2 separate regions of the Homo sapiens genome follow, and region 2 is linked to region 1. A link means that fine-mapping ties the variant in region 1 to the expression of a gene that starts in the linked region. Tissue or cell type: whole blood. Region 1 holds a variant in brackets; the other region holds the start of a gene. All regions are shown on one strand. Distances are between the middles of the regions.

Region 1 (2,678 bases):
CCAGCCTGACTGCAAGGTGACTGTGGTTGCTAACACGGCAAACTCCAGGAAGAGTACCTTGGTCCAGCCAGTGAGGGCTGCTCCCAGAGCTGACTTCCCTTCCCTCCCTTCGTGGTTTTACCCCACTCGGCCTTTGTGTCCCTGAGGAGCGCATCTTCCCCAATGTGCATGCGCATCAAAGCGTTCCTACTCTGCACTCGTTCCAGCTCTACAACATCTCCAGATTCGGAGGATCAAACTTGTACCCCATAGTCTCAGAGCAACTGAATCTCGGCATGAACAAAGGGAATTAGAGAATGCTTTCCCTTAAAAACAAAATCCCTATCCCTGTGGCTGATCCACGGAGACATACACACACCCTTGGAGACAAGACCTCACAGCTACAGCCCTGTCCTCCCCAAAGAAACTAAGATACAGACCAACAAGTACACACAAGTACATACAGGGATATTCACATATAGGGTAGTAAATTCCCTGTGTAGGGAATGCAGCCAGTGAGATAGAGCCAGGTAGAAGGGCTCTTCTCACAAAGCTGCTGCACAAACCCTGGCCACAAACTTCTGCCTGGCTCAAGGCTTTTTCCCTCCATCACCAAGTCAGCCCGTTATGCTGCCAAAAGCATATGCCCTAGTGCTCTTGAAGGCCATAGTCTGATGCCAGGGATGCTTAAGCTGGGCACTGTTTGGCCACAGTGACACCAGGCAGGGCCGGGGGACTTGGGGTCAAGTGTATTGACATCCCACTGAAATGCAGGGGCAGGTGTGCTACTGAAGTCGGTCCCTATGAAAATGCTGCTCAATTTTGCCTGGTGGGTCACACTTGCCCTGACCCCTTTGCTTATATGTCATGGGGCTCCATCTTAATGAGGGAAGTAGGGTTGAATGGGGAGAAAGGGGCTGGGGTGGGGGATCTTGTCAGAAGGCTCCCAGATGTGGTCACACTAGGCTCAGCCATCAGCAGGGACCCTGAGCCTGAGGAGAGCTCAAGTTCAGCCACTGGGGTCAGCCCAACAGTGGGGCGGCTGGGAGGAGACAAAGTCTGGTTGCCCAGAAGGCTCGGATTGTGGGAACCCCTGGAAACCACCTGGGTTGGAAGTGGCTGAAGATGAGCCTGATCTCTCAGGAGCTCCCTCAGGGTCTCTTCAGGAACCAGCAGCCCCTCCATGGGGGCCCCCGTCACCATACCCTGAACATAGGAGGAGGACCTCAGTGGCCCCTCCTTGACCCTAGGGGCTGCTGTAGTGCCAGAAGTCCTGATGAAGGCAGCAATGACAGTCCCAGGGGGCTGAGAGCTGGGCCCTGCTGGTCCAGCCCCTGTGAC[C/T]GTGGGTGGCGCCGGGTTGGTCGGACGGTTGGCCCCAGCCAGAAGTTGGGGGAGGCCACTGAGAATCAGTGGAGCCCCTGGGGCTGCCACCTGGCTGTCTTGGAAACTGGCGTTCAGGGGGAAAGAGGCCTGCAAAGTGAAGGTGTCCTTGAAAGTAGAGGCCGCTGGAACACTCTGGAGAACGAGCTGAGTGGGAGCAGTAGTACTGGCAGGAGGCCCATTGGTCAGCACCGTGGTCAGTGGGATCGTCTGCAGGGTCAGGGCCGAGCCCGACCCCACGGGGGCCACTCCTAGGTGGATGTTGCTGGGCACTGAAGATGCACTGAGAAGAAACAGAGAACAGAGTTGGTTAAGGCAGGAAGTGTCCCTCAGCTGGTTAGGAAGGAGGGCACGAGAGGAATGGAGCTGAAGGTGTTTGTCGATTTATTTGCTGTTTGTTGTTTTTTTCTTTTTCTAGAGACAGGGTCTCACTCTGCTGCCCGGGATGGAGTGCAGTGACACGATTACTGCTCACTGCAGCCTTGAAGCCCTGGGCTCAAGCGATCCTCCTGACTCAGCCTCCCAAGTAGCTGGGACTACAGGTGTGTGCCACCACACCCAGCTAATTTTTAATTTATTTTTTTTTTTGAGACGGAGTCTTGCTCTGTCACTCAGGCTGGAGTGCAGTAGTGCAATCTTGGCTTACTGCAACTTCTGCCTCTGAGGTTCAAGTGATTCTCCTGCCTCAGCCTCCCAAGTAGCTGGGATTATAGGCGAGCACCACTACACCCGGCTAATTTTGTATTTTTAGTAGAGACAGAGTTTCACCATGTTGGCCAGGCTGGTCTTGAACTCCTGACCTCAGGTGATCCACCTGCCTCGGCCTCCCAAAGTGCTGGGATTACAGGTGTGAGCCACCATGCTCAGCTGTAGCTCACATTTATTAAGTACTTAGAATAGGTATATAGGTCAGGGATCATTCTAAATGATTGACATGTGGCATTTCACTCAATCCTGAAAACAGCCCACAAGTGGGATAAGAACAATCTGATTTTACAGCTTGAGGAAAGTGAGGCACAGAGAGGTTATGTATTAATAACTTGCTCCAAGACCAGCCATACCTATGTTATCCTTTGATTTCTTCCAAGTGGGGATGCTGGGGTCTCACAAGGCCTTGATGTGAGTCCCCGCTCTAGTGATTACACAGCCAGTATACATAGTAAGCACTACAGCAGGGCCTCACAACTAGGTCTTGTGATCCCAGAGCTCATCTTCCTCACCATTCCACTCTACTGCCTGCCCTCCTCGAAAGGGTGTCTCACTGCGCCAGCGTAGTGACTGCCTGCCCTCCTCGAAAGGGTGTCTCACTGTGCCAGTGT
Region 2 (2,678 bases), 43 kb after region 1:
CAAAATCGAGAAGTCCAAGGTTAACTGTTCTTTCCCACTTTAAGAGCTAATTAAAATAATTAGCCACAATGAACTGTCAAACATTAACCAGAAGAGGCTGCAGGACCAGACAGGCCTCTATCACAGGCCGAGGGATGAGGGGCAGGAATCAAATGGCCATCAAATCCCTCAGCTGGGGTATGGTGCGGGGCGGGGGCGGCCCAGGAGGACCTCGCTGAGCCGAGGTGCCAAGGGGTCAGGAGGTGACTCTGGTCAGGAAGGTGATGTGCAGGCATACGGTGGTGAGAAAAGGGAGTCAGGGTTAGGGTGCGGTGGAGGAGCCAGGAATTCATAAAGCGGTCACCGCCTCAGCAGTCCCTCAAGCCTCCAAAGCAAGGCGCTGGCGTGAGGGGACCCCGCACGGTGCGGCTGCTGAATCCCCTAGGCGGCGGCCCAGGAGGGAACCCGGAGGCGGGAGAGTCGGGGAGAGCGGGAACGCGGGAGCGGGAAGGCTGGCGGCTGGCTCACACGGAAACTCCGGCCCCTGCCAAGAGGTCTCTATTTTGGCGATCCAGTTCTCCACATCATAGGTCTGCGTGCGCGTGTGTGCGTGTGACCCTAAAGCCCTGGCCCCAGAAGCCCCGGGGGCAGTCGGATCCATCTAGCAGCTCCGCCGCGGTCCGCCCCACCTCCTCTGCCCTCGGGCGCCCAGCTTCTGGGGGCCCGCTGTCATGATCGGCCCCGTCACGGAACCCAGGCTGCCGGGGGCGAGGGAAAACAGGGGCCCCTACCCCGACTCCCCGACTCGGGGAATCCATTCCACTTCCATCCCGGGATCGGGAGCCCGGGTTCTCCATCACACGCGCGGCGGGGCGACTCCAGGGCGGCTCGCGACACTCCGCGACTCTCCCGCCCTTCCCTGGGCCCCCAGCCCCACGCCGGGGCCCCGGCGCTCTCGATTCCGCCCTCAAGCAAACTTTTCCACGTCCCCCAAGGCTCGAAGAACCGGCGCCATCGACGTACCTGAGGCCGAGTGGCTCACGGGCCCAGCTCGGTCGCCGGGCCGGGGTCTGTCTCCGTGGTCCCCGCTCCGGGGGCCGAGACGCGGGTCCCCAGCCCCGCCAGCCCGTCCTCTCCCCTCGGAAGCCGGGCCGGGCGAGCGGCGCCAGGAACTCGGCGCCGGCGAAAGGAGAAGTGGAAGTTGAGCGCGGCGCCCGGTCGGTCCCCGCGGCCGCCGGGGCCGCCGTCCCCCGCCCTCCTCCCCGCCCGCCCTTCTTCCCCGCCCGCCTGCCCCCGCCACCCCGCGCCCGTGACTCACCTCGGCGCCGGGGCAGGCTGGTCCGGGCGGGCGAGGCGCAGGGCTCTCCCACACTTCGCGCCGCCAATGGCAAGTTGGAGGGAGAGATGCAAATACCAGGTGAGACGGCGGCGCCCCTGATAAAACGGGGCGGGGGGCGGGGTGGAGCGCGCGGGGAGCGGGGCGGACGCCGGGGAGGGCCGGGCCAAGACACGGGGCGGCAGGGGCGCCCGGGGAGGGGGCGCGAACCGGCGCAGACATGCACCGAAACGAGCGAGCGAAAGGGGAAATGCAGTAGAGACACACACGTCCCCGCAGGCGGCGGATGGGGCGGGCGCGAAGGAGGCAGGGCGGGAGGGAGGGAAGAGCCGGAGGGAGGGACCGACGGGAGGGACTGCGGGCGGGCGGGGTGGGGGAGGGAACGAGGGAGGGACGAGGCATCTCGGTGGAAACAGCGCCCGTCCGCCCCGGCCCGCCCGCCGCGGTCGCCAGCACGGCATGGGGAGCCGTGCCAGGGGCCCGCGCGGCCTCTCATTCCCCTCGCGGCTCGCTCGCGCCCGGGGGACCACGAGGCAGGGCGCCCGCAGAGCCCGCGTCGTGCGCCGCGGCCCGGGCGGGCGCTCCCCACTCTGCTTCTAGCCAGCGAGACTCCGAGCTCTCTGCTCGTTCCGCGCCCTTCCCGGTGCGAAGCCCCCATACAACGCCCCGCAGAGAAATCCCTTCCCCGCGGACTCGGGAAGGTTTCGTCCAGCCCCCTCGGCCCGTGCAAGTGGAGACTTGCTTGACGCCTTTGGGCCAAGCCCTGCGCTCCACATTATTGAGCTCCTGGGGTGTGCAGGCCCCAGCGGGAGGGCGGGCCGTGCGGCGGGTGAGGCCGCGAGATGCCCAGAGGATACAATTTTGGAACCATATGCCCGACTCCGCAGAATCCTGGGCGTAACACCTGGGGTGACTGGAGAGTTTCGGCGACTTCTTAGGGAAGTCGAGTCTAGGACTCCTGCGGGAAGTTGGGGTGGGGGACGCTGGCAAGATATGAGTCAGGGGAAGGGCTAGGGGGAGAGGGGCTGGCCCAGCAAGTGCAAAGAGAGCCAGAGTTCGGGTGCTGGAAGAAAGCCCATGCCTACCTTTCTTCCCCTGTCCAAAGCCAGGCTGCTCTGCTCCACGCGCCCACTTGAAAGCCACTCAGGCACGCTCCCCTTCTATCTCCCCTTTGCCCTCTCTGACCTGCCTCAACATCAATACCGCCGCCTACGTGGGTCTGCTGATAGGAGGCTCTGGAGAGAGTGCGCTGGGAATTGTTACTCTGTATAGTTCCACGTGGCCTTTTTGGGGGTGGGGGCAGCAAGGCCTAAGCCTTGGCAGAAAGCATCAAGACTGAAGGAGCCCCAGGGGATGGGGCCTT

Evidence for each region. PIP is the estimated chance that this variant, and not a neighbour inherited with it, causes the effect.
Region 2: it holds the start of ELF4, and the variant in region 1 is fine-mapped to the expression of ELF4 in whole blood (TOPMed, PIP above 0.99).

The regions. Positions count from the first base shown.
Region 1 is chrX:130,065,884-130,068,561 of GRCh38, forward strand. It overlaps ELF4 (E74 like ETS transcription factor 4), which reads right to left. Exons shown (of 9, transcript NM_001421.4): 9 at 1-1,642. The coding sequence ends at 838. Among named protein-coding and RNA genes, the nearest start is that of ELF4, 43 kb to the right of the region's middle. The variant C/T (reference allele first, on the strand shown) is at 1,321.
Region 2 is chrX:130,109,323-130,112,000 of GRCh38, forward strand. ELF4 (E74 like ETS transcription factor 4) reads right to left here and starts at 1,175. Exons shown (of 9, transcript NM_001421.4): 1 at 1,003-1,175. It also overlaps a transcript of RAB33A not described here. RefSeq lists silencers at 1,057-1,126, 1,207-1,356, 1,607-1,656, 1,667-1,716, 1,787-1,906.